Homo sapiens: one gene and its partners. The protein of the gene in region 1 purifies or fractionates together with the protein of each later gene. This does not show direct contact. Each region holds a gene or a part of one and is shown in the gene's direction. Other genes may lie near its edges. The genes, in order: TMEM154, OPA3, ARHGEF7 and GIT2.

The links.
Region 2: the proteins of TMEM154 (region 1) and OPA3 purify together in Homo sapiens (co-immunoprecipitation; 2 studies listed by BioGRID and IntAct, with this or other methods). This does not show direct contact.
Region 3: the proteins of TMEM154 (region 1) and ARHGEF7 purify together in Homo sapiens (co-immunoprecipitation; 2 studies listed by BioGRID and IntAct, with this or other methods). This does not show direct contact.
Region 4: the proteins of TMEM154 (region 1) and GIT2 purify together in Homo sapiens (co-immunoprecipitation; 2 studies listed by BioGRID and IntAct, with this or other methods). This does not show direct contact.

Annotation. Positions count from the first base shown.
Region 1 is NC_000004.12:152,618,124-152,621,029, reverse strand, and holds the end of TMEM154 (transmembrane protein 154 precursor), read left to right. Parts: 3' UTR 1-2,402; downstream 2,403-2,906.
Region 2 is NC_000019.10:45,581,774-45,589,067, reverse strand, and holds the start of OPA3 (optic atrophy 3 protein), read left to right. Parts: upstream 1-4,265; 5' UTR 4,266-4,303; coding exon 4,304-4,445; intron 4,446-7,294. UniProt on the Homo sapiens protein: May play some role in mitochondrial processes.
Region 3 is NC_000013.11:111,118,282-111,125,317, forward strand, and holds part of ARHGEF7 (rho guanine nucleotide exchange factor 7), read left to right. Parts: intron 1-7,036. UniProt on the Homo sapiens protein: Acts as a RAC1 guanine nucleotide exchange factor (GEF) and can induce membrane ruffling. Functions in cell migration, attachment and cell spreading. Promotes targeting of RAC1 to focal adhesions. May function as a positive regulator of apoptosis.
Region 4 is NC_000012.12:109,993,354-110,001,072, reverse strand, and holds the start of GIT2 (ARF GTPase-activating protein GIT2), read left to right. Parts: upstream 1-4,704; 5' UTR 4,705-4,848; coding exon 4,849-4,900; intron 4,901-7,719. Other genes in the region: ANKRD13A (ankyrin repeat domain-containing protein 13A), read right to left, coding at 1,289-1,384. UniProt on the Homo sapiens protein: GTPase-activating protein for ADP ribosylation factor family members, including ARF1.

The DNA of each region.
Region 1 (2,906 bases):
TGGTGGAAGAATATTGGGTATCTGAAGAGGTAGCCACCCTGGCCAGAAGGTGCTAAACACTAAACATACATCATCTCATTTTAATCCTAGTAATTACTTATGAGGTAGGTTTAGAGAACTTATACCTTGTTCCATGTCTTTCCAACTCCAAAGCACAAGTTTTTAATCACTGCACTGCACTGCATCCCCAATAACTAGCCGTAGGAAAGTGTTTTAAAAGGCATCACTTGGCGGGGTGCAGTGGCTCACACCTGTAATCCCACCACTTTGGGAGGCCGAGGCAGGCGGATCACCTGAGGTCAGGAGTTTGAGACCAGCCTGGCCAACATGGTGAAACCCCCGTCTCAACTAAAAATACAAAAATTAGCCAGGCATAGTGGCATGTACCTGTAATCCCAGCTACTCAGGAGGCTGAGGCAGGAGAATCACTTGAACCTGGGAGGCGGAGGTTACAGTGAGATGAGATCACACCATTGTACTCCAGCCTTGTCTAAAAAAAAACAACAAAAAAACAAACAAAAAAAAGTTTCAGTCATTGTCAAGGATGCCTTAAGGTGAGCATAGCCTGAGATAAGAAGTAACAGAGGCTGCAGGCTGAGATAAGAAGGAACAGAGGCAGTGAAGGCAGGACCCTAGGCCCAGAAGTAATGGTCTATCATGCTGAGAAAAAAGCCAGGGCTTAGAATAGGGGTGATAAGTAAAAAGCCTAGTTTTAAAATCTAAGTGCTGGTAAAGGTTTGGTCACTAGGTGAAAAAATAAAGTTCCCACTTACTAGAGCTGACATAAACAGCATATGATCCTCTTTAAGGTTGCAGTGGAGAGGCATGTCCAGGGACTCTCAAGTTAGAGACAGGTGTGTTTAGTGCTAGAATTGGAAAGACATTCAAGCAGACTGGCATGTTGCCTCTTCACAGCCATAGTCGTGCTGGCTTGCAGGATACTCCAGCCTAGAATGTATATAGGAGTGTGGAGAACAGCAAAATCAGCATTGCTTGGGATTCAGCCTGAGCTCAAGTGGCCCACCCCTGGAGGCATCCAGTGTTCACACTTCCCAAGAGAGAAAACCTGATTGGATGGGTGTTTCAGCAGTCTATTGCTGCTTAAACACCTCAAAACTTAGCAGCTTAAAACAACAACACTCAATTTATTTTTCACACAAATCTGCAATTTGCATGAGGCTCAGTGCAAATGGTTCAACTCTCTCCCACACGGCATTGGCTGGGCAGTTCAACTGGATCTGGGGGTCCCACTTTCAGATGACTCACATGGCTGGCAAGTTTGTTCTGGCTGTCGGATAGGAGCCCAGCCAAGCCTGTGGTCCAGCGGCCTTGGCTTTTATGATGTGGGCCTCTCCATAGACTCCTTGGGCTTCTTCACAGCATGGCAGCTGAGTTCCAAGAGCAAGTGTCCCAAGAGAGCAAAGTAGAAATGCATAGTATTTTTATAATTTAGACTCAGAAATCACATCACATCACTTCTGCCATACTTTATTGTTTGAGACAGTTACAAAGTCTACCTAGGTTCAAGGTGGAAAGGACATAAACCCCACTTGTCCTTGGAGGCGTGTCAAAGCCACATTATGAGAAGAGCAAGTGGGATAAGGGATTTGTTGCAGGCACCGTTGGAAAATGTGATCTGCCCAAATTGGTGTGTCTTCATGCAATATCGAGGAAATATATTAGGTAGTTTCGTGTCAAGGAACATTGTGGATATTTGACCTCCCTGAATCCCAGTGCCTATGTGCTCTTTGGCTTGGACATAGACCCCTGGTCCAGTAGTCTGTAGTAGGTGGTAGAACTAGTTTTACCAACTACATGAGTCATGAGCCATGGGACTGAATGGGTTGTAGGTGGATCAGACACATAGAAATGTATGACTACTCTCAAAGCATGAGGTTAAAATGGGAGCAGATTAGACTGAGCACCTTGAGGATAGGGATCAGTCTTACTCATCTCTGTATCCTGAAAAGTGCTTGGCGCTACTGCACGCTCCATAATAACAGAAAAACCAATTATTTAATGAGCTAGGAGTTACATATCATCTTTCCTTAAGTACCTAATCAGTCTTTATCATCAGTGAGTGCAGAACTCAAATATGGTATTGTTCATCTTCCATCACCATTTTCTCCCAAGTTTCCTGGTTTAATTGCATTTTCCTCACTTTCCATCTAATGGATCCTGATGTCATTCTTTATCTTTATTTCATATTGTCCTATTGTGTGTATTGTATTGTATTTTTAGCTACATTAAATCCAATATGGAAGGAAGCAGAGAACGATCATAATTGAACTAACAAGCAAGTGGAGGTGGAGAGAAAGTGGCCCCAATTTGGAAGGTGAAGGAAAACTGGGGATGGAGCCTAACTGATCATTAAAATGCTCGAAGCAGCTCTTTCCAACCCAGATCTGAGCTTCTCTTCTTTGCCCTCTGGAGGGTCCACAGAGAAAGGAAATACAAGTTTTATTAAGAAAAAGAGGAAAGCATCTATTTTAGGTGATAATACAAGCACAGAGAAGGATTGTTTCTTCTCTGGGCAGGAAGACAGATTCACAAAATAAGAGGCACTGTAAATCCTTCCTGAGATGTTCCCCAGCACCTCTGAATGTCACTGAGACCAACTAAGCCAGTTAATGGGCTAAGACCCACTTACCTCTTAACTCCATGAAATCCATGCAGAAATACCTCCATCTTGTTACAAGTGCCAATTGATTGCTTTTTACCTGGCATGAAGGTGCCTTTCTGTTCATAACCCACCCTGTCCCATTCCTAAGGGAACCCCATCCTTCCTCTTGGCTTGTACTGTTAGACCCTCTGCCTTCCGGCAACTGAGATGAAGATTCTAAGGAAGCAGCCACATGAACTCACGTCAGGATCAGTGTTCCAGGGGCGTCCAGAGCATGAGCAAG
Region 2 (7,294 bases), on another chromosome or scaffold:
CTCAGTAGAGGATGAAGGTGATTTGACTTAAGTATTAACAGTATCCCACGGGCTGTTGAGTGGGGAGTAGAATATGGGAGATTGGCTGGGCACAGTGGCTCAAGCCTGTAATCCCAGCACTTTGGGAGGCTGAGGCAGGAGGACTGCTTGAGGCCAGGAGTTTGGGACCAGCCTAGGCAACATAGGGAGACCCAGTTTCTACAGAAATTTTAAAAATTAGCCGGGCATGGTGGTATGTGTCTGTAGTCCCAGCTACTTGGTAGGCTGAGACCGGAGGATCACTTGAGCCAGGAGGTGGAGGCTGTGATGAGCAGTGATTGCACCACTGCACTCCAGCCTGGGCGACAGAGCGAGACCCTGTCTCAAAATAAAAAAGGAATATGGGAGACAAGGATAGAAGTCAGGAGCCCAGTGAGGAGGTGACTGCAGGAGTCCAAGAGGGAGGTGCTGTCAGTTGGGCCGGGTGGGTGGTGGTTGTGGATTTAACAAGGAGCAGTGATCAGCTTTTGGAGTTTTATTTTTGTTTGTTTATTTATTTATTTTGAGACAGAATCTCGCTCTGTTGCCCAAGCTGGAGTACAGTGTCAGGATCTCGGCTCACTGCAACCTCCGCCTCCTGGGATCAGGCAACTCTTGTGCCTCAGCTTCCTGAGTAGCTGGGATTACAGGCATGCACCACCACGCCTGGCTAATTTTTGTATTTTTAGTAGAGACGGGGTTTCTCCATGTTGGCCAGGCTGATCTTGAAATCCTGGCCTCAAGTGATCCTCCCACCTCAGCCTCTCAAAGTGCTGGGATTACAGGCTTGAGCCACCGTGCCCAGCCTTGGATTTATTTTAATGGAAGAAGCACAGGGGCCAGAGGGATTATGAAACACGAGTACCTCACTCATTCCAGGAAAAGGGTGACTAGGGGCTGTGAGCAGAAAAAACTTCCAGGAAGGATCCCAGGCCCTAGTCTAGGGCGGTCACCAGAGAGGCCAGGCAACCAGTCCAAGGTCCCATGGCTGGTGAGTCAGCGCTGGAGCCATCTTGGGTTCCCTCTCCCCTCCCCATCTCTGCTTGTGTTCCCATGCCCCAGGATGGCCAAGGCTGCCCTCCCTCCCCTGGTCTCAGGGGTCACCAGGAATGGCCACTGTTCCATGACCAGGCTGGAGAGCAGGAAGAAGCACCCAGCTCTGAAAAGGCCTCACCCTTCAGAGAAGGTCTCCTCTCCTCTTCCTCCTTACGGGTGTGTAAACAGACTCCTGAGGTGTGAAGATTCACTCACAACCCTCCTACCACCCCGCTCCCCCGGGCCCTCCTCTCCCTTCACAAAGGTTCCCAGAAGACTTTCCCGGGAACCCTTCTCAGAGAAAGGAAGAAGGAGGAGAGGAATAGGGGGAAAAATGCACTCAATGATTTTTCTGGGGTGGAGGGAGCACAGAGATGGCGGAAATCAGGGCTTTGGTGTTGGTGGGCTGGAGGGCTAGAGAAGAGAGGGAGGCCTGGGATCTGGGAGGCCTAGTAGTCTTCCCACCCCATCCCACTGCTGTAAAGCTATGGGAATGGAGGTGATGGGGCCAGAATTTTTCTTTTCTCTCTTTTTTTTTTTTTTGAGACTGAGTTTCGCTCTTGGTTGCCCAGGCTGGAGTGCAATGGCGCGATCTCGGCTCACCGCAACTTCCGCCTCCTGGGTTCAAGCAATTCTCCTGCCTCAGCCTCCCGAGTAGCTGGAATTACAGGCATGTGCCACCACGCTCTGCTAATTTTGTATTTTTAGTAGAGACGGGGTTTCTCCATGTTGGCCAGACTGGTCTCAAACTCCTGACCTCAGGTGATCCACCCGCCTCGGCCTCCCAAAGTGCTGGGATTACAGGCGTGAGCCACCGTGCCTGGCCAATTTTTTTTTTTTTTGAGATGGAGTCTCACTCTGTTGCCTAGGCTGGAGTGCAGTGGCGCCATCTCGGCTCACTGCAAGCTCCGCCTCCTGGGTTCACGCCATTCTCCTGCCTCAGCCTCCCGAGTAGCTGGGACTACAGGCGCCCGCCACCACGCCCGGTTAATTTTTTGTATTTTTTTAGTAGAGACGGGGTTTCACCGTGTTAGCCAGGATGGTCTCGATCTCCTGACCTCATGATCTGCCCACCTCAGCCTACCAAAGTGCTGGGCGTCAGCCACCACGCCCGGCCAATTTTTTTTGTTTTGTTTTGAAACAGAGCCTCGCTCTGTCACCCAGGCTGGAGTGCATTGGCACGATCTCGGCTCACTACAACCTCCGCCTCCCGAGATCAAGTGATTCTCCTGTCTCAGCCTCTGGAGTAGCTGGGATTACAGGTGTGCGCCACCACGCCCAGCGAATTTTTTGTATTTTTAGTAGAGATGGGGTTTCATCGTGTTGGCCAGGCTTGTCTCGAACTCCTGACCTCACATGATCCGCCTACCTGTGCCTCCCAAAGTGCTGGGATTACAGGCGTGAGCCACTGCGCCCGGCCTGGGGACAGAAATTTTATGTTTTTTGAGACAGGGTCTTGTTGTGTTGCCTAGGCTGGAGTGCAGTGGAGCTCATGGCTCACCACAGCTTCAACCTCCCAGGCTCAAACGATCTGTAAAATGGGAAGGGGGCTGGTCCCAAATGGATGATGGACCTTAGGTAGTCCCAAGTTTCTGCATACCTTCCGTGTGGAAGGGACCCTGGAAAAGGTTGTTTTTATGGAATCCTGGCATTCTTAGTAATTCAGAATATCAGGGTTCACACACACACCAGCACCATCAGTAAAGATGAGGAAACGCAGGTCCCTCAGTGCCAGGAGCTTGACAAAGGACACTCAGAGAGTCAGACTGGATACCAAAGAAGTCCAGAGCCCCCTGATTCTGTGTCCTGAATGTATGTTTCCTCCTACACACCACTCCTCTGTTCCTGTTTTCCTTTTTTTTTTTTTTTTTTTTTTGAGACGGAGTCTCGCTCTGTCGCCAAGACTGGAGTGCAGCGGCGTGATCTCGGCTCACTGCAACCTCTACCTCCCAGGTTCAAGCGATTCTCCTGCCTCAGCCTCCAGAGTACCTGGGATTACAGGTGCCCGCCACCATGCCCGGCTAAATTTTTTTTTTTTTTTAGTGGAGATGGGATTTCACGATGTTAGCCAGGTTGGTCTCAAACTCCTGACCTCAGGTGATCCACCCTCCTCAGCCTCCCAAAGTGCTGGGATTACAGGCGTGAGCCATGGCGGCCAGTCCTCTGTTCCTGTTTTCTTCTGTCCCTCTGCCTCCGAGAATCTCTCAATTACCCATCAGCACTCCATCATCCAGGAATTTCTCTCAACCCCTTCCTGACATTGTTTATATGATTTTACTCCCTGCTGGGTAAGAAAGGACAGTCTGGGACATGTCCTTAAATTTATTTCTGAACTAGCTCCCTGGGGAACCTACCTCCTAATGAAGGAAGTTGGGTTGCTTGAGAACGGGTATGGTTTTATTGGCCAAGATGCCAGGCTATCAACCTCTGCAGGAACCTTGTGCCACCCCCTGCCCTGCTCTGGGCCTCAGTTTCCTTGTCAGTTACTTGGGAAAGGGTTGGATTCGCTGCTTCTGGGGGTGAAATGCACCCTCAGGCTGGATTTAGCATTAATAATGCAATCATGACCTGTATAGTAAGAAGGGCTATTTACTGAGCGCTTAACTATATGAATGGCACCATTCTAACCACTTCCCATGGTCCACTGTTTTACACTCAAGATTAGCATAGAAGCCTCACAACAACCCAAAGAGGCAACTGCTATTAGGATTCCCATTTGGTAGACGGTAATACTGAAGTCCAGAGAGGTTATGCCACTCATCTAATATTACACAGCGAGGAAATGGCAGAGCTGGGATCCCAGCCAAAGTCTGTATGACCGCGCGGCTTCCTCTTAATCCCAATGAGAGCCCTAGCTTGCAGAGGAAGGTGTATTTGGGGCTCATAGGACTAATTAGGACTAATTAAGAGCCTCCTTTGGGTGGGGACGCCAACTCGGAACGTGACATCACGAAGGAGTACAGTGACGTTGGCCAAGGCGGGCGTGGGAATCCACACGCCTTCCAGCATCCGTTTAACGGCACCGCCCCCTGACCCGCCTCACTTCCGTGTATATTTGCATATTCAGCGAACGGACGTCGCTACGCCAGCGTCGACGGGGTGACGTCAGGATGCGCCTCTGAAGTTTCCCTCGAGCGTACGTACATACGTACTGACGCACGCATGGCCACGAGAGGGCGGGGGAGGAGTGAAGAGGTTGAGGCGCCCCGCCCAGTCAGCAAGGTTGCGCGTGCCCTGTGAGACCGCCAAGATGGTGGTGGGCGCGTTCCCTATGGCGAAGCTGCTATACTTGGGCATCCGGCAGGTCAGCAAGCCGCTTGCCAACCGTATTAAGGAGGCCGCCCGCCGAAGCGAGTTCTTCAAGACCTATATCTGCCTCCCGCCGGCTCAACGTGAGTCTGACCCGAATTCCCTCCAACCTTTTTCCTTTCTCCAACCCCTGTCAGGTGGTTGCTTAGGGGATGGACTTCTGTCTACGACCAATCACAGCCCGAACCGGCAAAGTCCAGTGGCCAATAGTGGGGGGTTTCTGATAGAGGGGCGTACGGGTGGCCCAGTAGTGAGGGCGGGGCGGGGCGTAAGGGGCGGGTCAAGGAGCCACCACGCGAGTAGGAAATGCCAGCCGATAAAGGAAGAGAGCGCTTGGAGACTGATGCCCTGTTAAACCAATAGTGTGAGAGATGGGAGAAATTTGGACGGGGCTTTCCAGGATAGAGGAGCTAGGGGAGGGGCTGAGGAGAAACCGGACGGGGTCCTTTGCCCGGCTGTCCTTGGGCAACTTCATTTCAAAAGCGGCACCGTGTGCCTCAGTTTCCCCACTGATCTAGGAGGTGCTTGTATATCCTCCGTTTAGGACGTCGACGTGCCTCAGTTTTACTGTAGTCAATAAGTCTGGATTAGGGGCATGGTTCGGGGGTGAAGTCTGGGTTCTGGAGACATGGCCTGGGAATCCGGAAAAGGACTTTGAGCCAGAGAGGACATTCATCTGTGTACTCATTAATGCGCTCATACGCCGTCCTTTCATTCGGTTGACAGACTATGCGGCCTTTTTGCTCAGCACTGGGAGATATACTCCTGATCCATCACTGTCAACCCAGAGTGGTCGGGAAAGTGGGAGCCCCGGAGCTCAGAGGAACTGGCTGACCCAGGGACCTGAGGCCAGCAGGGCTGCCTAGAGGGGGCCGCCCGAGCTCAGATCTAAAGGGCATAGTAAGGTCCGGCGCGGTGGCTCACACCTGTAATACCAGCACTTTGGGAGGCCGAGGCGGGCGGATCACATGAGGCCAGGAGTTCGAGACCAGCCTGGCCAACATAGTGAAACCCGGTCTGTACTAAAAATACAAAAATTAGCTGGGTGTGGTGGCGCACACCTGTAATCCCAGCTACTTGGGAGGCTGAGGCAGGGGAATCGCTTGAACCTGGTAGGTGGAGGCTGCAGTGAGCCTAGATTGTGCCATTGCACTCCAGCCTGGGCGACACAGCAAGACTGTCTCAAAAAATAATAAATAGAAATAAAGGGCTTAGTAAACACCCAAAATATAAACTACTTTAAAAAGGTGATCTTGCCGGGCGCGGTGGCTCACGCCTGTAATCCCAGCACTTTGGGAGGCCGAGGTGGGCAGATCACGAGGTCAGAAGATGGAGACCATCCTGGCTAACACGGTGAAACCCCATCTCTACTAAAAATACAAAAAAATTAGCCGGGCGTGGTGGCTGGGCGCCTGTGGTCCCAGCTACTCAGGAGGCTGAGGCAGGAGAATGGCGTGAACCCGGAAGGCGGAGCTTGCAGTGAGCCGAGATCGTAACACTGTACTCCAGCCTGGGTGACGGAGCAAGACTCCGTCTCCAAAAAAAAAAAAGGTGATCTGTGTTGTGCTACGTGGGACATAAAATAAGGGAATTTAGCATCATTGGCTGGGTCAGAGAACCACTGAAACCGCCTTTGCAAAATTATGACTGACACAGCGAAAGAGATCTAAGTTAACTTACTCCATCTTGCTTCTAACCTCCAAGCTATCCTTGTTCATTCCTGGGCAAAGGCTGAACTAACTTTGGGAGAGATTTAGTTTGTAGTTTATAGTTTAAACAAACATGGTAACAGCCCTTTCCCAAAGCAGACCTCCTTCTTGTCTGGCGACTGGATTGCCTTTGTAGGACTAACATTAGCCACAAGATTAGAAATTATGGTTTAGGAGTCATGCAGCTGGAGGGTACAAGATTCTGACCCTCCCTAAACTGCTCCTAAGATCAGTGCTTGAGATATTTCACAGACCCTGCACTTGATGGATCAGCTGGCCTTACCCAGATCAATAAACTGGCCCATCTGATCTTGTGGCCCCCCAACCCAGGAACTGACTGAGCGCAAGAAGACAGCTCCGACTCCCTGTGATTTCATCTCTGACCAATCAGCACTCCTGGCTCACTGGCTTCCCCTCACCCATCAAGTTATCCTTAAAAACTCTGCTCCACCGAGATCGCACCACTACACTCCAGCCTGGGCGACAGACCGAGACTCCGTCTCAAAACAAAAACAAAAAACAAAAAAACTCTGCTCCAGCTGGGCCCATTGGCTCGCATCTGTAATCCTAGCACTTTGGAAGGCTGAGGGGGGTGGAGCACCTGAGGTCAGGAGTTTGCAACCAGCCTGGCCAGCATGGTCAAACCCCGTCTCTACTAAAAATACAAAAGTTAGGCGGGCTTGGTGGCGGGCGCCTATAATCCCAGCTACTCGGGAGGCTGGAGCATGAGAATCGCTTGAACCCGGGGATGGAGGTTGCAGTGAGCCAAGATCGCGTCACTTCATTCCAGCCCAGGCGAAAGAGTGAAAATCCATCTCAAAAAAAAAAAATAAAATAAAATAAAAATAAAATCTCCCTGAATGCTCAGGGAGACTGATTTGAGTAATGGTAAGACTCCTGGCTGGGGCGCGGTGGCTCACGTCTGTAATTCCAGCACTTTGGGAGGCCGAGGTGGGTGGATCATGAGGTCAGGAGTTCGAGACCAGCCTGACCAACATGGTGAAAACCCGTGTCTACTGAAAATACAAAAATTAGCTGGGTGTGGTGGCGCACATCTGTAATCTCATCTACTCAGGAGGCTGAGGCAGGAGAATTGCTTGAACCTAGGAGGTAGAGGTTGCAGTGATCCGAGATTGCACCACTGCCCTCCAGTCTGGGCAACAGAGCAAGACTGTCTCAATCTCAAACAAACAAACAAAACACCCTCCCGCACAGCCAACTCT
Region 3 (7,036 bases), on another chromosome or scaffold:
AGGACGTTCACGGCGTGTCAGATTCTTCTGCTCATTTAAAGGAAACTTTCCACCCAGGTTCCCGCTTTGCTTTTAAGGTGGAAGGTTAGACAGTGAGAAGATGGAATTATAAACTTTACATGAACAGTTCAGAAAAGAGACACTTTTCATTATACTGGACAGATGTTTTCTGCTGTAGGGGAGAGGAAAATGGGATTAAAAAGTTTTCGCCTTCTCTGTATCTGGAGATCCTGCACTTTGGTTTTCTCCAGGAGGGGTCAGGATGTTTGGCTGGGCTGCCCATGTCTTCGGCTTCCCACACTCCTCCCGTGAGCAGAGGTCATGACGTCTAGGGAGCCCTGGAAGCCCTTTTCTCACAAATTCACTTTAAACATCCCTAGGGTATTTAGTCAAAGGAGGTGAAATCAAGATACATGAATTGTAGAGGATGGAAAATTTCTATAAGACTAATACAACACATTAAAATCATGGAAATCATGAAATGCTCTTTTAATTTCACTTGTGAATGCAACAAATGAAGTCTCTTAACTCACTATAAAAAACTCAAGGAACTTGGTTCTTTCTCTGTGTGTCCCAGGAGAACAGAACACAGAGAACCTTCCTGTGTAATCCATGTGATGTGCTCCCGAGAACCCTGGCTAGGTGTTTGTGGAATGTAATTGAAAATCAGACGCTGCCTCGGGTCTTAGTGCTGGATGTGGAGGCATTTGTCTCTCAGCTCTGGAGGCCCAAAGTCTGGGATTAAGGTACCTGCAGGGCCTCGTGCCCTCAGAAGGCTCCAAGGAGGGGTCTGTCCCAGGCCACTCTCAGGCTTCTGGTAGTTCCTGGCTTGTGGCAACACAAGTCCAATCTTCACATGATGTCCGTGCTGTGGTTTCTTCTCTGTGTCCAAATTCCTCCTTTTTAGCAGGACATCAGTGGAATTGCATTAGGGGCACCCTACCCCAGTATGGCCTCATCTTAACCGATTACATCTGCATTAACTTCATTTCTGAATAAGGCCCCATCCTGAGATACTGGGGGTTAGGACTTCAAAATACGAATGCTGGAGGAGCACAGTTCAGCTCATGACAGGTTGTTTCTACATTTGAACCAGATCAGTTTATTAGCTATTGATCTGATTGCACAATGCCAGGTGCTAGGGGAGATTGCAAAACCTAAATAATAGAGTCTTGGGGGTTCCAGTACAGAAAATGTAACTCGAAAGACAAGAACAGCATGAGGCAGAAGGAAGTCAAGAGTCGTAATGTCAGATATGGATGAGAAGGAGCAAAAGAATCAAGGAGCTAAAAAGACCAGCATTTGAGCAGGTCAGACCCAAGACTTTGCTGACGTGTGGGTAAGAATATGGTTTGCATTTCCCAAACTGTAACCTGGCAGCCCTAGGTGATTTTCCACAGGCTTGCAGAAAATCAGCAAATCTGATGTTGCATAGGAAAAAAGGAAATACTTTTTTCTAGGTAAACTGGAGACTCACTTTCTGCTCAGTGTCAGGATTCTGGGGTTGGTTAGGGGCTGGGGTGAGGAGAAGCAGAAGTGCTCACCTGCTAGAAATGTGCCTTTTCTTAGGTCCTTTGGCCCTAAAAAGAACGTGATGAGTGATCACATGTGGTGGTAGGGTAAGGTTCTCACTCAGGCCCGTGACCTGTAGCCGTCATAAAGACTTGTTGATTGGCTAAGTCACTTATAGAGAAGTTATAATATGGTATCTCCAGACTGTGTTTTTAAGGAGACTTCTTTAAACCCTGCAAACTGAATAACTGGTTATATCAAGTTGCTTCTAACTAAACTACCCTGAATATGGTTCCAGAATAGTGAATTTTGCAATAATAAACATTTCCTTTTGAAGCATGTGACTTTATAGTCCTGTCTCAACCCTGAACCAGTGTGATTCTTGTTTGGGTTTCAGGCCTAGGGAAGAAGGTAGCTGGAACTGCATTTGCTGGCTCACTAAAAAGAAAGCAAACAAACTGAAATTCAATTTAAATCAGGAGTGCCTGAAGAGATTTCCTGAGAACCAGACTAGAAACTAGTGTTTATGTTGGCATCACACAGACACAGGAGAGCACACACACAAGCATACACACACGCATACATGCACACTTGCACATGCATGTGCACACACGAACTTATGCACACACGCATGCATGCCTGCACAAACATGCACATACGTAAACACATGCATGTAAATACACACACACACAGACACATGCGTGTACATAGACACGCACACACGCACACACAGACACGTCTGACGGGGGTTGAGGGAGTGGGGGAAGGAGTGCTGGCACATGTGGCATTCCATTTTCTCAGGGGCAGCTGCTCTGTGAACTCTCCAAGCCCAGTCCAAAGGATGCCATCTCAGGACCCGGCCCTCATTCTATTAATAGAAGTCACTCCAGAATCTGCCTGCTCGCCTCCTTTCTTTAGGCACTGCCTGCCTTTCTATACATCTTAAAAGAGAATAAGATGTCTGCCCAGCATGGCAGGCAGCATGCTCCTCTCGTTTGCAGGCGCTGTCCCTCGCAATACCCATACTGCAGATGAGGACCCTGAGGTCTGGCAGTTAGCTTTGCCCCAGGTCATCTGGCTGCACTCGGAGGCGGAAGATTCCAGCTCAAGACTGTGAGCTTTCTCATGGAAAACAAGACTGATTCTGCCACCTATACTGAACTTAGGGGAAGATTCGCAACCACTGCCTTCAGAAATTTACAAACCAGATCAGGAAAGGAGACGGAGGCAGCAGTGTAACTGAGCACCCAGGGGGGACAAAAGTGAGGACTGGAGGGGCTGGCTCAGGTCACCGGCCACAGGGGCAGAGTGGGAGCCCTCAGGAGTGCCTGGAGCCACTGCAGGTGTCTCACTTCTCGGGACATCTGGAAGCAGCTCTGCCCTTCAGTAGACAGACCCCAAAGGCACCCAGGGTAGGGCCCCTTGCCCTGGGGGAACCTGCAGAAGCTCCTGCAGAAGTCTGTGTCTGGGCCTTTCTCCCCGGCCGCAGAACGTGTGTTCCGTGTTCCTGTACCATCCAATAACTCACTGTAGTTTCTGGGCTTCCCTACTCTGTAGGGCTTACCAGATTTCCACTTAGTCCAAGATTTCAAACTGTGTGCATCTACACCACACACACTTTTAAAATTCAAGTACTATGTACACACGAACATCTCTCTCCCTTTAGAGGCCACTGATCACTCTAAAATGTAAAGAGTGGAGGCGATGGGGGCTGTGAGGTGAGTGGGGGCAGAGCCGTTTGTTCTTGTGTAGGGTGGATTTTAGCCGTTTGGATTGGAGTCTTGTGTAGGCTTGACGCCCACGCGTCTCTCACTGCACGAGGGAGGTGGCAGAGGCACATCATCCCTTTGGGCACGCAACTCTACCACGTGCATCGCTGGGAGATGGGAGGACTGGCATCCCCCGAACCCACGGGTCCCTGCCTGGAGACACTGGGAGACCCGGTCCTCTGCGTGCTTCAGAGTCAGGCACACCTGGCTTTGTTCCCGCAGCCATTTGCTCTGTGACTTCCGGCACCTGTCTAACCTCTCGGAGTCCTAGTTTCTTCCTCCTAAAAATGAGATGAATGATATCCACTGGTGGGGGCAGTGAGGTCATTACCAGGGTAAATGAGTAGATGTGCTGGGCACAAAGTCATTCCTCAGTACGCAGTAGTTACTGTTTTGTTGATTGACACTGAAAACCTTCCCCATCGTGTCCAGAAGACTGTAAGCCAAGATTTGAACCTCAGAGCCATCCAAATCCAGGAACACGGGTTAATTCTCACAACAGGGCAGACTCTTGCAACTTTCGGGGGCTGGCAGCCTCTGCATCCCACTCTGGACAGACCACCATTGTCTGGGTTGGTGGGCCTGCTGAACGTGGCTTCCAGGGCCCTCTGGTCAGCGCCAGATCTGGGCGCAGCTGCTGAGTGCACACAGCTGCTGGTTGGGGAGCGGGAGGGCTGAGCGGGTGGACTCAGGTTTCGCTTATATAAAGTTTCATGCATCAGCAGGGCCGGGAGTCAGAGATGGGAAGTGAGGGCCAGCCTGCCCCACCTGGTGTCTGCAGAGAGAGGGCTTTGGGGCCGCCCCGGTCCGACTGCTTCCCGGGTACAGCTTCTGACTTCTCCCTCCTTTATCAGTTCTGTCAAGTTAGGGTAGGAGAATTAATCTCTTGATGTTTTTATATTTCTAACTTTAGCTTTGAATTTTTAAGGTTTGATGCACCAGGCTGGCAGTTCTCAACTCTGTTTTTGCAGGATGGTGTCATGTCTGCTGGGGTCTCAAGGCGAGGCGGTGAGGGGAACTGAAATGGAATGTGTGCACAGTGTATTTCAAACACATGTATGTGAATTCATTTAATCATCCCTTTTACCAGGTTCCTATTGTGTGCGTGCTAGTGACCCAATCACACGCATGGAAGCGCACGCATGGATGCCAGCCATACCACCTCTTCAGGCAGGTCAGAAGAGAAATGCTAGGATCTTGGGTATAAAGTATTTGTGAGTTCTCAGGATGAAGGAATGTAGAGTCATCCAGCCCAGACGCCTCCTTTTGCAGATGGCTTCACTGAGGGCACCTGCATGTGGTTGTGTAAGCTGTGTACTGCCCGGTCTTGGGAGAACCGTTCACACTGTAGTCTAAGCAAATGGCTCCAAGGCCTGTGCTGGGAGGCGGCCCTGGGATACTGTGTATAGAGGTCAGCCTCCCAGGACACAAAGCAGAGTGGAGAAGGGTTGGGGTAGACGATAGAAGTGGCCCCAATTCTCCAACCCTCCCATGCCCCTGGCAAAGTGACCTTGTAGCGCCTCCATCAAGAGGTAGGAGTCTGCTTCCTCACTTCTTGAATCTGAGCTGTGACTTGTTTTGGCCAATGGACTGTGGCAGAAGTGGCCAGTGTTAGTTCCTAGCCCAGGCCTTGGAAAGGCTTGCACTTTTCTGCACTCTCTCAGGCCCTGTGTCTACCTCCGAGGAGACCCCAGGGCTTGGGTGCTGGTGGGGTGTGATCACATGGAGGAGAACTCAGTTGTCCCTGCTAGGCCATCCTGGACCTATCCACAGCCAGCCAACCTCAAACATTGAAGAGAGCCCAGCCAGGGTCAGCAAGCTGCCTGCCCTGCCCAGAGCAGGCACAGCTGCACCAGCAGGCCCGGACCAGGCTGACTCAAGCCAGCCACTGAGGTTTACCATGGCCATAGATAACAAATCACACACACACACATACATGCCCGTGCCATTCTTAACTAGGGGACATGCCGATATATGTAAATACAGTCCATCCCAATCACAAGAGTGCTTGTACCTTTGTTTAAAATACCCTCTATATCCTTTATTTCCTTGATAATTTCCTCTCTAGTATTTTCTCTATTCTCATTTTTTAGAAATCTTATTAAGACTAATCAGAGATAATATCTATTGAGTGCATACTGTATGCCAGGCACTGTTCTAAGGACTTTGCCCATAATAATGGATTTAACCCTCCTCACCACCCTATAAGGGAGGTGGTGACAGGATCGCCCCCATTTTCAGATTAGGAAACGGAGCTCCAGAGCGGCTGGTAACTGGCCATCGTTGGCTGGTGGGCTGCGCCCCCCCCCCCCGGCCCCGCCCCCTGCCCCTGCGGCTGCCAGGCCTGCTGGGTTGAGTCTCTCATTTGCTGACCTTTCCACTTGTATGTTTCTTCTCCTTCTGAAAGACATTTCCTTGACTTTATCTCCCAACTTTTCTACTAACATTTTTTATTTTGACCTACTTTGGCTATTTTTTTTTTAATTTCTAAAAGTTCTTTTTTCTCGTTATCTGGTTTCTCTCTGTTTCTTCCCTTTCAGTCAGTCCCTTCCTGTTTCTGGGAAGATTCCTCTCTTCCTGTGAACATTCATTACAGTTTCCTTGAAGGGTGCTTCCTTCCCTGCATTCACTGTCTCTGTTTCCTCTGAGTCCTCTTATGCAATTCTTTTTTTCCATGTTGGAGATTTACTGAAACATCATGTGATCTTTCAAGTGTGAGGCCCTCAAAATGACCAGGAAGTCCTGTGTGACTGCTGGGGCCCAGGGACATGCAGGTCTCGCCATGGGGCAGCCTGGTGATGCCCAGAAGTCTGAACCTGTTGGTCTCTTCTCCAGCAGCCGTGAGTCTCTCCAGAGACTCCTCCATCTGCTGCCTATCAGAGCAGTGTCCATCCTCACCTTGGCTCCTGTCCATGCTGGCCCTCTCCATGTTCTGGCCTCTTTGGTTCACTTTTCCCCAGAGAATAAGCCTCGGACCCCTGCAAGGATGGCAAGAGGGGTGGCCAGCTGTGATGGGGCTGGGGCCCCTAGGCCTGCATCTGACTCTCAGACAGGTGGCTTGTCTACCACCTGGGAGGGTGCACTTGCCACTGGCTACTGGGATGGGACCTTCTAGTCTCTGCTGAAGCCCCACCCATCCTCCGTCTGCTCCCTGCCTTCATAATGGTGGCCTGGGGATAGGTGTCTTCTAGTTTTTTTTGTTTTGTTTTGTTTTTTAGACAGAATCTCACTCTGTCACCCAAGCTGGAGTCCAATGGCACGATCTCGGCTCACTCCAACGGCCGCCTCCCGGGTTCAAGTGATTCTCTTGCCCCCGCCTCTCGAGTAGCTGAGGCTACAGGTGTGCGCCACCATGCCCGGCTAATTTTTGTATTTTTAGTAGAGACAGGGTTTCACCATGTTGGCCAGGCTGGTCTCAAACTCCTAACCTCACGTGATCTGCCTACCTCGGCCTCCCAAAGTGCTGGGATTACAGGTGTGAGCCAGTGCGCCCAACCAGGTGTCTTCTAGTTTTATTGAAGATGATGCTTGTGTTTCTTGTTCTCCTGGCTGTTTTGGAGGGATTTTTTTTCAAGAGAAGTGAGGCTGAAATAATTTTACTGTACTGCTTTGGACCTGGAATCTTTCCATGATGAGAAAAAGAGAGAGAGTGAGAATATATGAATGAATATCCATGTCCTATGCCCTGGGTTTCATATCTCTTCTTCTGAGTACTTTAAAATTACTAGAGAAAACAAAACTGGAAGCTGGTTATT
Region 4 (7,719 bases), on another chromosome or scaffold:
AAAAGCAGAGTTTCTCAGCCAGGCGTGGTGGCTCACACCTGTAATCCCAGCACTTTGGGAGGCTGAGGCGGGCGGATCACCTGAGGTCGGGAGTTTGAGACCAGCCTGACCAACATGGAGAAACCCCATCTCTACTAAAAATACAAAATTAGCCGGGCGTGGTGGTGCATCCCTGTAATCTCAGTTACTTGGGGGGCTGAGGCAGAAGAATCGCTTGAACCCAGGAGGCGGAGGTTGCAGTGAGCCGAGATCGCACCATTGCACTCCAGCCCGGGCAACAAGAGCGAAACTCAGTCTCAAAAAAAAAAAAAAAAAAAGAAGGAAAGAAAGAAAAGCAGAGTTTCTCAACCAAGACGCTGTCGGCTTTGGGGGCCGGAGAAGTCTTAGTTGCGGGGGGCTGTCTTGGCCATTGTAGGATGTTGAGCAGCATAACCGGCCTCTACCCACTACCAGAAGCACCCACTCCCCACTTTCAACAACCAAAAATGTCCCATACATTGCCAAATGTCCCCGGGGGGTCGTGGGTGCAAAATCACCTCCAACTGAGAGCACTACTGCTTTAAAGAGATAGCAATAATGAAAAGATTAAAGCATCAAAGCACTTTAGAACAGGAAGGGATTTTAAGGAGCCTGAGAACCCGTGATTCTCAAACTTTGCTAGGTATCAGCCTCCCTGGGGAGTTTGTTAAAAATGCGGCACCTGGACCTCACCCCAGACCTATCAATAGAGTCAAGTGTTGGGTTCTGCCCCAGCACCAACATCCTCATTCTACAGCTAAGTTAACGTCGGCCAGAGAGGGAAAATGCCTTGCCCAAGGTCACAGGGCGAGTTAGAACCTGGACTCCAAAACCAACCAAGCCCTTCCTTACAACAAGGAGAGTGTGCTATTCTTACGTCTTTGAGGCAGCAGAACCTAAAAATGGTTAAGACGGTGCATTCCGGAGCCAGCCGGCCCGAGTTAAAATCCCGACTTGGCATTTATCAGCGGGGCGGCCTCGCACAAGGCACGTAGCGTCTGAGGACCTGTTTCCTTCTCTGTCCAGTGGAAAAGTAACAGTACCTACCCACCAGCGTTATTGGAAAGGTGAAGAGAGAAGATATTTAAAAAGCCCGTCGCACGGTAAGCACTCGATACGTGTCCTATTATTAGGACTGTCCCACACCTGCAAAGTGGAAGGGGTCTGGGGATCCCGGGGACAGAGGGCTGGAAATGGGCTCAGGGAGGCGAAACGACCCCCGATTCCCCGAAGTCCCCACCGGGAGACGGACCCCCGCCCCGCCCCTCACCTGGCCCTGCAGCTCCTTCTCGAGCTGCCGGTAGTCGTTTTTCCAGACTAGGAGGTGCAGGGGGTAGTGGTCGCCCGCGTCGCAGGCCGAGGACATGGCGAGGAGGCCGTAACCTGGTCCTCGTCGCCCGCCCCAAGTCTCGGCCCCGGCGGGGTCTCCCGCGCCCGCCTGCCTGCCCTGAGGCCGGCGAGCAAGCGAGCGTAGGGCGTGTTACGCTGCCGGCCGGCTGAGCCGGTCGGGTGCGGGGCGCGCGGGAGGTCCGGGGTCGCCGGCCGGCTCAGGGACCAGGTCGGCCGCGCCCACCCCGCGCCCCGCGGCGTTCCCGCCCGCGCTGACAGCTCGCGGACAGACTTCTGCGGACCTAACTGCCCCAAACAGGGAAGTGCGGAGAGCGAACCACCGCATGCCGCGGCGGGGATAGGCGACCTTGGGCACCGGGTCCGGGGTCCGCGCCATTGCACCCACCTCCAGCTCACACCGAGAAACTCAGTGCAGCCCACAGAACAGAGCTGAGGCTCATTCTCTTGGCCAAAGATCTCCACGCGGAAAGTTCCGTCTACCTGTCCCCAGCTTCTTTCCCCCTGCTCCAGTAGCCCCATGTGGTTCGGTCCACAACTGGGCCTCTTCCATTGGCTCTGAAGTCAGGGGGTGACAACTGAGCCCCGGACCAAACCATTCCAGCTGCCGACACCCTTGCAGCCTTTTTGGAGCAGGACAGATGCTTCCACGACGGGTCAAAAGCCATTTTGGAAGTGGGCAACACCGGACAATTTTTGAAGGAGGAACGCTAAACCCTGGCGAAGTGGCTTCAAATACAGTATTTGCATAAAAGGGGATATTTCTACTTCATGATTTCTCAACCTCGGCACATATTGAACTGGGCAGTTTTTGTGTGGGGGTTGTCCGGTCCTTGTAGGATGCTGAGCAGTTGCCCTGGTCTTTCTCCCCACTCAATGCCAGTAGCACTCCCCAAAACATGTCTCTCCAGATATTGCCAAATGTCGTCTCGGGGAGAAAAATCGTCCTCAGTTGAGAACCGCTTCTATTTGAACTCCGAACCGGGTTATGATTCAATAGCTAACTATGGTGGTGATTTAGTCCATGTATGAATGTCATTTTTAAGCTAGCTTTTTGGATTTGAGGTTATGGCTGAAAGGACTGATAAATAATATACATATTTGACCACAGTCTGCGAATATGAAGTTTATTCTTTGAGTTTCAGGCACTATGCCTCCTTGACTCAATGAAGAACCAAATCAACTTACAGCTAGCTACTCATGGGCTTGAACTTTCTGCTGCTGCTTCAGCTCAGCTGTCTACAACTAGACCACATAGCTGGATGAAGCTATTTAATGCATTGTGAAAACATTCCCTCTGCCCTCTGAGTGTATGCACATCCAGCTCTTCAGATGCCTGCAACAACAGCTGTTCAAGAATCCCAACCTAATCCATTCTCCACAGATGTGGAGCCCAGAAGATTTGTGAGTTGTTAAACCAAAACAGGATGCAGGAGCACCAGGATGGCACCCGGAGACTCTAACCATGGAATGCGTGGGAATTCTGTGATTATTTCTCCATCACACATTTATCACACTGTAGAGATGGACTCAAGACCAGTGCTTCTGAGGCCTTTTCCAGCACTTCTCATTCTTTCAGATGCCTTTTGCAACTTAACGTTCTCCTTCTTCTTCATCATGCCGTGTTTATTGAAAATCTCCCTATCTCATTAATCAGAAAACCCCATAATGACAGGAACCACATCGTTTTGCTTACCAGAGTATCTAAAACCAAAATAGTACCTGGCTAACAACAGGCATTCAATATTTGCTGAATGGAGATCATAGCTGTGTTTATATGTAAGACAGACAATAAGTAGTCATTGGTATTAGGGTCACATCTCCTTTCTCCTTCACACTGATTTACCTCATTTCATTGTGTTTATCTCACACCATTTTGTAAATTATCCCATGTTAGCTATTGTTATTCTCAAATTCCACGCATATGAAGAAAAACAGTAATTAGAAAATAATAGCAATATCCATAATTATGGGAGCTACTATTTACTGAGGGGTTACTATCCAGCAGGTGTATCACATTTTTCCCATAATTTATTCCATCTGTCCTTAGCCAAAATGAATGTTTAACTTTGCTGGTCACATACAAGTTTTGTCGCATATTCTTCTTCCTCTTTTTCTTTATTTCCCTCTCTCTCTTCTTCATTTTCATCTCGCAACCCTTTAAAAATGTAAAAATCATTCTTAAGTAGCAAGCCATACAAAAACAAATCGTGGACTAGAAGTAAACAATGCATTATCTTAATTTTGAACATGAGATTAAAACTGAAGCCTAAGGAATCATCTAATATATTCTTTTTTGTTATTTTTGTTGTTGTTGTTGAAGTTGTTTTTGAGACAGTCTCGCTCTGTCCCCCAGGCTGGAGTGCAGTGACGCGATCTCTGCTCACTGCAACGTCCACCTCCCAGGCTCAAGCGATTCTCATGCCTCAGCCTCCTGAGTATCTAGGATTACAGGCATGCGCCACCACGCCCGGCTAATTTTTTTTTTTTTTTTTTTTTTTTTGAGACGGAGTCTCACTCTGTCGCCCATGCTGGAGTGCAATGGCGTGATCTCAGCTCACTGCAACCTCCACCCCCTGGGTTCAAGCTCCTGCCTCAGCCTCCCAAGTAACTGAGATTACAGGCTCCTGCCACTGTGCCCGGCTAATTTTTGTATTTTTAGTAGAGACGGGGTTTCACCATGTTGGCCAGGCTGGTCTTGAACTCCTGACCTCGTGATCCACCCGCCTCGGCCTCCCAAAGTGCTGGGATTACAGGCGTGAGCCACCGCGCCCGGCCAATTTTTGTATTTTTAGTAGAGATGGGGTTTCACCATGTTGCCCAGGCTGGTCTCGAACTCCTGCCTCAAGTGATCCTCCTGCCTCAGCCTTCCAAAGAGTTGAGATTACAAGAGTGAGCCACCACGCCCAGCCTGGAATCATATAATATATTCTTATTTTACTTTACCCCAGTAAAATGCAAGCTTCATAAGGACTAGAAATTCAGTCTTTGCTCACTGCTGTTTCTCCAGTGGCTGGGACAGTATATAAAGCATGGTAAGTGCTTGATAAACATTTGTTGAATCAAGGAATGAATGAATGAACTTGACCATTGATTGCCTCAGGAAGGTTGTGGCTGCAGGGTTCTCATCACAAGATATTGCTACTTCCCCTGGTATTAATCAGTTGGGACGAGGGGAATCTCTGCCAGAGAAGAAGACCCAAATTCAATATTTAAAGGTAGGACAGATGATACTCGGGCAGTCTCCTGCCCTCACTCAAGATGGCGACAAGGCAGAGTGCCCTTTCCGGTCACATGACCTGACACTCGCCGAAGGGCACCTCCCCGCGCGTGCGTGCTGTGCCAAGGCTGCAAGGCGCTGAGGGGAGAGGCGCCGCCGTCAGCGCCGCCGCAGCTGGGACCCGTTAGAGCGGAAGCGCCGCCGCCACCGCCGCCTTTGCTGTCCCCCGGCCTCTAGTTCCCCGCAGGTGGGAGGTGGGAGCCATGTCGAAACGGCTCCGGAGCAGCGAGGTGTGCGCTGACTGCAGCGGGCCGGGTGAGTCGCACCGGCCGGGCCCGCTCCCCTCTGCTTTCCTGGCCCGGACCCCTACCCCGGGGCCGCCCCCTCAGGTCAGGCTGCATCCCGCGGCTAGGGTCGCAACGAAGAGGTCCCTGGGCGGCCTTGGGGTGGGAACCGTCCCGGGCCTGTCAGAGCCGGGCGGGCAGGGGGCCGCCGCCCTCCCCGTCCCTCGCGGCCCTCCCTTCCCTCTCGTTCCCTCCCGTTCCCTCCGTCCTAGGCCAACTGGGGAGGTGACGGGGGCCAGGGCTGCTCCCCCAACAGGAAGGGGCTTGGGCAATCCACAGGAAAGCCAATTACAGAAGTAAAATGTGAGCGTCCTCCCGGCTGCAGCCTCCAGAGGCTGCAGGTGTCACCTCCCACTAGACCCTTTCTCCGCCTGGGTGTCCTGCCCGGGGAGGATGACACTCCCTGAGACTCGCCAGAGGGTCCCCGTAGATGACTTCCCCGCTGCTGACATCCGACAGCTACTCTGCCCGGGAGAATTGCCAGGAGATCGGGGTCTTCCAAACACAACCAGCACTTAGGAGGCAGTGCTTGTCTCAAGTTTGAGGATCTGAACGGCCTGGGTTCAAACTAGATTTTGCTTCTGGCTGACCTTGGGCTGGTGACTTCACTTGGTCACTTGCTTGATTTCCTCATTTTTTTCAATGAGGATAATCGGGAGTATCACGCTTAGTGGTGAGGAAGATTCAATGAATACTCGTAGAATCATATCATCTAAGGCTTTTCTTTTTTGCATTATGCTGTCTACAGTAGAACTCTTGTAGTCCCTTAAAGCTATATTTGACTATCTAAATCATACGTTGATTACAACGGAAACAAACGCAAAATCACCAGCAATATAGGGGCATTGAAACGCTAAAGCCATTCCTTCATAATGATGCATAACTGTTCATACATAATATTCACATTTAGAGATCAAGTGTGTCTTAGCAATTGCAACTGAATTGTCAGGTCTCTGGATAGATTATTACATGCTGTTTTAGGTGCTTGGATGTATTGGCTTTGAGTTAATTCGAAGGTAACATGGCTTTCTTGGCACAATAGTGTCCGATAAACAATCTTAATTAAATCATTGAACACCACTGGCTTTGCAACTGTTCTGATCTTAAGCTTGTCATTTGGAAGTGGAGACCAATTGTAAATAGAACTGTGATAACTCAAACCTCATGTGGTTGTTTTATGGCCCGTACAGTGCAGGTGTTACCAGTTTCCTTTGAAGATAGGGAGGGGGTATGGAGGAGTTTAAAAAGAAGTGTTTTCTAAACCAAGTTAGTGTGAGTTATACAAACTCCATCATTTTCTCTAAAAATGTTATTTGTTCCACTTCCTTATTTTCTTGCCTATTTTCAGTTGAACTTACCGTGATGTATTTGATTCACATGTGTCTAGCTTCTAACTTCCTCTTGGAATGCATATTGTTTTGCTTCTTGATAGGGTACAGGGCAAAGCAAAATTGTTCCTCCATTGCCATCCTAAATATACTTTTGCAGCATTTTGTGCATTTCAGAACATTTTCTCTTCCATTGTATCGCTTTAGTTGTTGTCTCATACGCCTAATCTGCAGAGACTTGAGTCACTTCCTTCCTGTTTTGAATATAATTAGGCTACCTTGAAATATTCTGTGAAATTGAGCAGCTGGGAATTTGTGCTGCCTTTTCTGCACAGCCCTACTGAGAGAATTACCTGTAGGGTTAGGGACCCCTTTGAGATTCTGTTGAATGCTAAGGCCTTCTCCCCTAAAATGCACGTGAACGAATTTACCTAAGATTTGTCTGGGGGAGTCACAAACATTTTTGAAGTTCATTTGTGGTGTCCCTGGAGCCCTGGCTCCAGATGAACTTAAAGGGTTTTACCCAATCTCATTCATACAAACATTTTTATTTTACTATGTTAACATTCTAATATTCTTTCCATGGGATTCTGATCCAGGATGCTAAAGTGGTTAGTCGAATACTTGTCTTAATTAATATGTGTTAAATACTTGCTAAAAAAAGAATACTGCAAATCCTCTGAATAAGTGAAAACCAAAGCTATGCTTCAAAACAGTCTTTTTTTTTTTTTTTTTTTTTTGCCATTAGTGTCAGTACTATACTGCAGGAAGCAGTGTTGTTAATGCATCTTTGTAGAGCTCCTTCATCTGGACATTTCCAATCTCTGCTTTTTAGGATGATACAGTAATAGCGACAGAGTTATACTAAATTGAATTATTTTGATTCTGTTTTATTTTATGCAAACATTTAACCATGATCACATCTTCTTAAATATTCTACTTTTTTTTTTTTAATGAATCTGGTTCATTTCAAATACATCACACTCTGAGTTCAATTACTTGAAAACTCCATGGAGATTTTCAGTACAGTAGTAGAGTGGTCACATGAAATGTTCAATGTTTTAAGTATTTCCCATCAAAAACTTTGTCCAGTGATCATGAATTTCACGTCTAGAAAATATCTGAATACTGAGAAAATAATTTAGAAAAGATATAACAACTAACATTACTACTTTACTATGTGTGAGGTACTTCACTTATTCTCTATATCCTTACTATCCCGAGATTTGTCATTGTTCTCATTTGAACCATGGTGAAAACACTCAAGTAACTTGTCTGAGATCATTGTGCAAGAAGTGGCAGAGTTGGGGTTCAAACCCTGAACTCCTTGTCTCTAGAGCCAACCCTCTTAACCACCATACTCACTGGCTCCCAGGATTCGTCTTTGATTGAAAGCCCATAACTTTTCATTATATGGTTTGAAAGGGTTTGAATAAACTCTTAAAAAATGGTAAAGATGGTG